Regions from separate parts of the Homo sapiens genome. Here all the other regions are linked to region 2. Evidence: fine-mapped expression QTL. A gene starts in region 2. Each other region holds a variant in brackets. All regions are shown on one strand. Distances are from middle to middle.

Region 1 (2,759 bases), 820 kb before region 2:
ATATTTCTACAAAAAATACAAAAATTAGCAGGGCGTGGAGTAATCCACGCCTGTAATCCCAGCTACTCGGGAGGCTGAGGCAGGATGATTACTTGAGCCTAGGAGTTTGAGACCATAGTGAGCTAAAATTAAAAAATATATATATATATTTTTTGAGACAGTATCTTTCTGTCACTCAAGCTGGAGTTCAGGGGCAAAGTCATAGTTCACTGTAATCTTGACCTCCCAGGTTCAAGCGATCCTCCCACCTCAGCCTTCTGAGTAACTGGGACCACAAGCAGGCACCACAACGCCTGGCTAATTATTTATTTATTTATTTATTTATTTAGAGACAGAATCTCACTGTGTTGCCCAGATCTCCGCTCACTGCAACTTCTACCTCCTGCGTTCAAATGATTCTCCTGCTTCAACCTCTCAAGTAGCTGGGACTACAGGCGTTTGCCACCACGCCCGGCTAATTTTTGTATTTTTAGTAGAGACAGGATTTCACCATGTTAGCCAGGCTGGTCTCAAACCCTGACTTCAAGTGATCCACCAGCCTTGGCCTCCCAAAGTGCTGGGATTACAAGTGTGAGCTACCATACCCAGCCCATAATAATTATATTATTTTATTTATTTTGAGACGGAGTCTCGCTCTATTGCCCAGGCTGGAGTGCAGTGGCATGATCTCAGCTCACTGCAACCTCTGTCTCCCGAGTTCAAGTGATTCTCATTCCTCAGCCTCCCTATTAGCTGGGATTATAGGCACCCGCCATCATGCCCGGCTAATTTTTGTTTTTGTTTTTGTTTTGAGACGGAGTTTCACTCTTGTTGCCCAAGCTGGAGTGCAGTGGGCGATCTCGGCTCTCTGCAACCTCTGTCTCCTGGGTTCAAGTGATTCTCCTGCCTCAGCCTCCCGAGTAGCCTGGATTACATACATGCACCACCACAGCTGACTTATTTTTTTGTATTTTTTAGTAGAGATGGGGTTTCTCCATGTTGGTCAGACTGGTCCCAAACTCCCGACCTCAGGTGATCCGCCCGCCTCAGTCTCCCAAAGTGTTGGGATTACAGGTGTGAGCCACCGCGCCTGGCCCAATTTTTGTATTTTTAATAGAGATGTGATTTCGCCACATTGGTCAGGCTGGTCTCTAATTCCTGGCCTCAGGTGATCCACCCACCTCGGCCTCCAAAAGTGCTAGGATTATGGGTGTGAACCACCACGCCCGGCAATAATTATTTTAAAAAGGAAAGTAAGC[C/T]GGGGAATGGAAAATGAATATGAAATGGTACAGCTGCTGTGGAAAACAATTTGGCAGTTTCTCAATAAGTTAAACATAGGATTGCCATATGACCAGCAATTTTACTCCTAGTATATAACCAAAATAATTGATAACAGGTGTTCAAGTCAAAACTTGCACACAAAAAAAATTTTTTTTTTGAGACAGAATTTTGCACTTGTTGCCCAGGCTAGAGTACAATGGCGTGATCTCAGCTCGCTGCAATCTCCGCCCCCTGGGTTCAAGAGATTCTCCTGCCTCAGCCTCCCAAGTAGCTGGGATTACAGGCACCCACCACCACGCCCAGCTAAGTTTTGTACTTTTAGTAGAAATGGGGTTTCACCATGTTGGCCAGGCTGGTCTCGAACTCCAGACCTCAGGTGATCCACCTGCCTTGGCCTCCCAAAGTGCTGGGATTATAGGCGTGAGCCACCGCACCCGGCCACACAAAAATGTTTATAGCAGCCCTATTCACACTAGCCAAAGGTGGAAACAAAACCAAGAGCAGTGGTGCGCCTGTAGTCCCAGCTACTCAGGAGTTTGAGGAGGGAGGATCGCTTGAGCCCAGTAGTTTCAGGCTGTGTGGTATGGTATGATCATGCCTGTGAATAGCCACTGCACTCAGCCTGGGCAACATAGCAAGACTCTGTCTCTAAACAAAATGGTTTTTTGGCCAGGCACGGTGGCTTACACCTGTAATCCCAGCAGGCCTTTGGGAGGCCAAGGTGGGCGGATCACGAGGTCAGGAGTTTGAGACCAGCCTGGCCAGCATGGTGAAACCCCGTATTTACTAAAATTACAAAAAATTAGCAGGGCATGGTGGTACGCGCCTGTAATCCCAGCTATTCGAGAGGCTGAGTCAGGAGAATCACTTGAACCCAGGAAGCGGAGGTTGCAGTGAGCTGAGATTGAGCCACTGTATCCCAGCCTGGGCAATAGAGCGATACTTTGTCTCAAAAAAAAAAAAAGAAAAGAAAAGAAAGAAAAAAGGGGTTTTTTTGGCATAGGATCTGTCTGTCGCCCAGGCTGGAGTGCAGTGGTGTGAACACACAGCAGCCTGGAACTCCTGGGTTCAAGTGATCCTCTTGCTTAATAGCGTCCTGAGTAGCTGGGACTACAAGCATGCATCACCATGCACAGCTAATTTTTCAATTTCTTTCTGTTTTTTTTTTTTGAGATGGAGTTTTACGGTTGTTTCCCAGGCTGGAGTGCAATGGCGCAATCTCGGCTCACTGCAACCCTGCCTCCGCCTACTCAGGAGTCTGAGGCAGGAGAATTGTATTTTTGGTAGAGACGGAGACAGGGTTTCACCATATTGGCCAGGCTGGTCTCGAACTCCTGACCTCACGATTCGCCCGCCTCAGCCTCCCAAAGTGCTGGGATTACAGGCATGAGCCACCGCGCCTGGCCTCAACCATTACCATTATCTAAGTCCCAGGGCTCTTTCATTACCCCAAGTAGAAACTTCATACCTACTAAGTAGCCATTCCCATGTCCCTCTCC
Region 2 (2,759 bases):
TGTGCCTCAAAGACATCCCACCTGATGATTTCCCCCCTGGGAAGCAAGCAGTTCACAGCCAAAAGCTGGGATCTGGTCAGGCAAGTTCAGACTTCTCGTCTGTAAAGGGGAGGCTTAGCCACGTGCTCTCCAAGTTCTACCCGGAATAGAGATTTGTAGGGGTGCAACCTGAGCGAGGCAGAAGTGTGTCCCCACTTGGTATTCTGGGGGCCTCTGCAGAGTGAAGAGATGGGGCTGTGATGTGATGGATAAGCCAGACTGTCTCCTCCAACTGAGCTGGAAGGACTTGGCAGGAGACTGTCCCCTGTTCCCAACTCTGGGGGAGGGCAGATGGGGAATGAAAGGGGAGTGGTGTCTGAGCCCAGACTGGCCTTTGATGTGTGCGTGGATAGGTGGGCAGGTGGGGCCTGTAATGGGTCTGCTGAGGGATCCCTGAGGGCATCCTCAGTGTTGACCTACTTGTGTCCCCCATAATTGCTTCCTTCCTTTCTTGGGAGGCTACAAATAGTGACGCCCTGTCTCTAAGCTCCTACAGCTGAAACGCCAGCACCAGTGGTGAGTGCCAGCTGCTTGGGTCCTGCCCTGGGTTGAGTGTCAGGGCAGTTTGGGGACCCCCAGTAGCCAGCCTGACTCCTGACCCAGGGTCTGGCATTGGAAGCAGAGAGATGACCACAGGCGGGCCTGACACGGGGAGGGAAGTCAGATATAGTGGACGCAGAGGTTTCCTTACACAGTGAGGGGCTGTTGGGGAAGTTTGGGCAGGGAGGTGTGTAGAGCTAAGGTCTGCCTTGGGGTGGGAGCACTGGGCTCAAGGCTCTGGTCTTCCCCTTGATCAGGCCCCTCACCTGCTCCTTGCCTCCTTGCTTCACCTCTGAGTCTCCTCATTTCTGAGGATCATGGCCCTTTCCTCTCCTGGGAACCTGGACACCTTGCTCTAATCCTGGGGTGTTTACAATGAATTAAATCCTGGCAGTGCTTGGCACTCCCCACTCCCCTTCCCCTACTTTCCTGCCAGCCACAACCATGCCAGCCATTTGCTCCCAGCAGGGGGCCCAGCAGTGGGCAAATCTTCAGGGAGAGTCTTGGCCCTGGCCGCCCTGTGCTGCAGGACTCTTGTCCCGTGGGGGAATCAGGAGTGAGTCACTGGGCTAGCATGGAAAAAACTCTTGCCTTCCTGGCTGCCTTCGGGTTTTCCCAGGCTGGAGGCATCATCCCAGAAGGGCGGTGGAAGGGGACAGTGGAAGTGGGGGGAGGTGAGCAATTCCAGGAAGGGCTTCCCCTCCAATAGAACAGAGTATCCCTATACAGAACCTCCCTGCTCAAAACCCCCAGGGGTCGGGAGGGTAACCTCAGGGGAGGCCAGTCTCAGATTGGTAAACACCCGAACTGGTCAACTCTCAAGAGACCATCTGGTTCAGGTTCCTGACTGGGCCAGCGAGGTGAGATGAACCCCAACTTACAGATCAGGCCCCGCCCCTGAGACCCAGAGAGACAAATGGCTCACCAAGGTTGCACAGCTGGCGACAGGCAGAGAGGATCCCACAAGTTTTTCTTCTGGGTGCAGCTTCCTCGAGTTCAGGGCAGGAGGCAGGGTGAGGGCAGTGGTGGTGAGGCTGTGGGGGCGCCTCTCAGACCTGCCCCTCCCTGCTAAGGCCTAGCTTCTCCAAGGGCTGAGGGCAGAGAAGCACAGGGCCAGGCTCTCCTTGTGCAAGTTCCTGCAGGGAGGGAGGCTTCTAGGGCATCTCATGGGCTGGGGCAGACTGGGACCGAGCCATCCCTGGGTGTTGGGGATAAGAAGAGGTGGCAGATAATCTGAGAGTGCTTAAGGAGCCCCACGGTGGGGTGTGTGGGTGGTGGGGTAGGATGCTGTCTCTCTGAGGAGTTTACAGCGATGTTGGGGCAATGAGACCTCTACATGGGGAAATAACAACAGGACAGCAGGGGGATAAATTAGGAGGGGCTGGTGTGGTCTGGGAGGGCTACTCAGAGGAGGGGGAGACTGCGGGGCCTGAAGCCTGATGGAGGTTAAGATGGGTCTGGGAACAGTCTCTGAGAAACACAGAGGGCAGAGGTGAGCTGGGGGGCTGGCCTGGAACTCTGCTGTGAGCCACACCCTTGTTCTGTGACAGTGAGGATGGCCAGGCCTCTGGAGCAGGCGGTAGCTGCCATCGTGTGCACCTTCCAGGAATACGCAGGGCGCTGTGGGGACAAATACAAGCTCTGCCAGGCGGAGCTCAAGGAGCTGCTGCAGAAGGAGCTGGCCACCTGGACCCCGGTGAGCAGTCAGAGTGTCCGTCCCCTCCTCCTCCGGGGGGAGGCACTGCCTAGACTCTGCAAAGAGAGACCTGGGGACAACAAGCATGAGCACAGGACAGCAAGGGAGGGGGCTGGATTGTGAGGAGGGAGTGGGAGGGGGAGAACTGACACAGCAGAAACCTCAGCTTCCTCATCTGTAAAATGGGATGACAATCATCCCTGCTGCCTTGCAGAGCTGTTGAGAGGACTGAGTGAGAGCACCATGAAGAATGCCTAACACTTGGTAGGCACTCAGTAGCAAATAGTAGGTGCTCGATTAATAATCTGAGAGGACAGATTTGGGAGGGGATTGCAACGAGTGCATTATCAGAGCAGGGAGGTTGAAGTCGGCCCTCAGAAGGGTGTAGTTTGGGGTGGGGTGGGTCCACTTGGGAGAGGAAGGAGGGAGGTGGCGTGTGAGGCTGTTCTGCCCTCCTCATCCTACTCCCTTACCTCTCCCAACC
Region 3 (2,759 bases), 38 kb after region 2:
AAACACTGGAACTGTGTATTTAATATATTTTGAAAAAAATTAGAAAAACACTGCAAAACATCAAATAAAACACAAAAATTTCAAATCTCCAGCCAAGCAAAAAGCCCCATGTGCCTGCTCTTAGTCTCTTAGGTGAGGGAAGAGACTTACTAATAGTCTGTCCTGAGGAAACCACTCCCAGGAATGGGTCCAAACTCCTTTTAGTGCACACCTCCCTTTCCCCCAAAAACAGGCATTACTATTTTCCTACCAAATTTTCCTATGAAGGCATAATTACCATTTTGATGACAACACACAGATCCTTCCTGCTGATGTTCAACTTTTGCTAATGTCCCTTACTTCTTGACATCCTGGGTATCCTTTCCTCCCCCTAGTTACAGATTGCTTGTGCAAATACGTTAATAAATACCGCTTTTAGCTGTGAAGTTATTAAGAGTGTGAGTTATTACAGATTGTTCTGTGGCTGGAGCTCAGCGCTGGACTATGTTTTATGTTTTGACTGGTGCCCTTTGTGTGCAGCTCAGAGCCACAGTGTTAGTTTAGGAAAATACAAATCTACCATATGCAATGAATGATCAGGAAACTGTTGAATTTGGTGAGTAACAACTCTCTCAGAGGCCAGGCACTGTGGCTCACACCTGGAATCCTAGTACTTTGGGAGGCTGAGGCGGGAGGATCACTTGGGCCCAGGAGTTTGAGACCAGCTTGGGCAATATAGTGAGACTTTGTCTCTACAAAAAATAAAAAAAAAATTAGCCTGGTGAGGTTGCTTCTGTGGTCCCAGCAACTCAGGAGGCTGAGGTGAGAGGATGACTTGAGTCCCAGAGGTCGAGGTTGCAGTGAGCCATGTTCATGAGACTGCACTCCAGCCTGGGTGACAGAGTGATACCCTGTTTCTAAAAAACAAAACAAAACAAGACAAAACAAACAAAACAAACAAGAAACAACTTTAAAATGTTTGGAAGAAAATATAGAAAAAGATCGTTATGACCTTGGGGGTGGTGAAGGTTTCCTTAAGCAAGAAGAAAAAGAACATAGCCCAGAAAACGCTTTACTGCATTTAAATGAAAAATTTGTGTTAATCAAAAAGCACCATTAAAAAAATACAAAGCTAGACTCTGCCTCAAACAACAACAAACAGACAAAAAAACTTTCCAAGAAACTGAGAACCTTAAAAAAAAAAATCTGGGAGTGTGGGTGTCAATCTCCCCAGCCTCCTGCCTCAAATTTGGGAATAAAAATGAGACTTTCCCCCCACCTTTTTTTTTGGTTCTCCCATTTGAGGTCAGGGCTTGGGCCTGGGAATGAGGGAGCCCACAGGGTCAGGCTGCCCCGGGCCCTGGACACTGGCATCTACCTTTTCCTCCACGTGGCAGGAGACCGGGCCAGCCTTGGGCTGCCACTACCGGTCCTTTGGCTCCCCCTGTTGACCACCCAGTCTCCAAT[C/T]GTCGTGGTCTTGCCTGCGGAGAGGCCTGAGGGGTCTAGCAGAGTGCTGGGATTGCCAAGGGAGAAACTGATGGCCAGATGTTTGAACAACAGCTGGCTGGAGCAGAAGCCAGACCCCTCTGCTCTTCTTTAGGGTCAAATCTCAAGTCACATTGTCCCAGTGATGGGCAGCCCTGCCCTGTAAGGAAAAGACTGAGCTAGACTTCTCATTCCCAATTTGTCTTCCACATTGCTGTTACATTTGGCTCTTTGGGCTGGGTGCGGTGGTTCACATGTGTAATCCCAGCACTTTGGGAGGCTGAAGAGGGTGGATCACTTGAGGTCGGGAGTTCGAGACCAGCCTGGCCAACATGGCAAAACCCTGTCTCTTCTAAAAATACAAAAATTAGCCGGGTGTAGTGATGCATGCCGGTAATCCCAGCTACTCTGGAGGCTGAGGTGGGAGAATTGCTTGAACCTGGGAGGTGGAGGTTGCAGTGAGCCAAGATTGCACCATTGCACTCCAGCCTGGGCGACAGAGTGAGACTCACTCTCAAATAGCACCAATCAACCAAACAACAAAAACAACAAAAAGAAAACATTTGCCTTTTTTGCTAATAAAACTGATCTGTAGCTTAAAATCCTATATTGACTTCCTATAATGCCCATAGAACAAGATCTAACTCCTCAGGCTTGCACCCAAGGCCCTCCTCAATTTTGCCTCAGTCTTTTCTTCTGTTTATTTTTTCATCAATTTGCCCCCTTCCCTAGGCCTGGATCTGTGCCTTGGGCAGAGATATTTTTAGAGACAAAAGAAACCTTTGCTTCAGTTATGTGTAGAGAAGTTTGGGGTTATAACAACGTGTGAGTGCAAGGTGTTATTTGGCCTGATGGCTCAGGCAGAGGAATAACAGATTATGATGTTTGAAAGATTAAAGTGGAAACAAACAAAATGCACCATAGCATAATAAAGCCAGTATTAATATTTTACAAAGAGGATGTTGAAGTTGTATTAATAGGGGGATATGCTTCCTTTGTGTAGAAATACTGATTATTGTGGTGAGTGGTGTTTGCCAAGCACCAAAGTGGGGATAAAACATCCACTAGCCCCATTTCTATGGCGCCAAATGCACCGGCCTCCCTGCGGTTTGCTAAGGACACCCCCTGCTGGCAGAAAGAGGGAGCATGGCACACATGCCAGACACTTGCCTGGTCTCCTGATCTTGCCATGCCCTTTTGCACCTCCATGATCTGTTCATGCAATTTATTCTGTCTCTTTGTATCCTCCTCCACCCCCAGCCTTCCATACCTAGCTCAAATGGGACCTCCTTGGT

Evidence for each region. PIP is the estimated chance that this variant, and not a neighbour inherited with it, causes the effect.
Region 1: its variant is fine-mapped to the expression of S100A3 in esophagus mucosa (GTEx, PIP 0.98).
Region 3: its variant is fine-mapped to the expression of S100A3 in whole blood (TOPMed, PIP above 0.99).

Annotation. Positions count from the first base shown.
Region 1 is chr1:154,366,933-154,369,691 of GRCh38, reverse strand. No RefSeq gene overlaps it. Among named protein-coding and RNA genes, the nearest start is that of IL6R, 37 kb to the left of the region's middle. The variant C/T (reference allele first, on the strand shown) is at 1,239.
Region 2 is chr1:153,547,861-153,550,619 of GRCh38, reverse strand. It overlaps S100A3 (S100 calcium binding protein A3), which reads left to right and starts at 1,362. Exons shown (of 3, transcript NM_002960.2): 1 at 1,362-1,439; 2 at 2,130-2,275. The coding sequence starts at 2,135. LOC101928034 (a long non-coding RNA gene) reads right to left here. Exons shown (of 3, transcript NR_125947.1): 2 at 1,505-2,199. RefSeq lists enhancers at 149-710, 1,274-1,835 and a silencer at 1,013-1,307.
Region 3 is chr1:153,509,760-153,512,518 of GRCh38, reverse strand. No RefSeq gene overlaps it. Among named protein-coding and RNA genes, the nearest start is that of S100A6, 25 kb to the left of the region's middle. RefSeq lists an enhancer at 2,676-2,725. The variant C/T (reference allele first, on the strand shown) is at 1,447.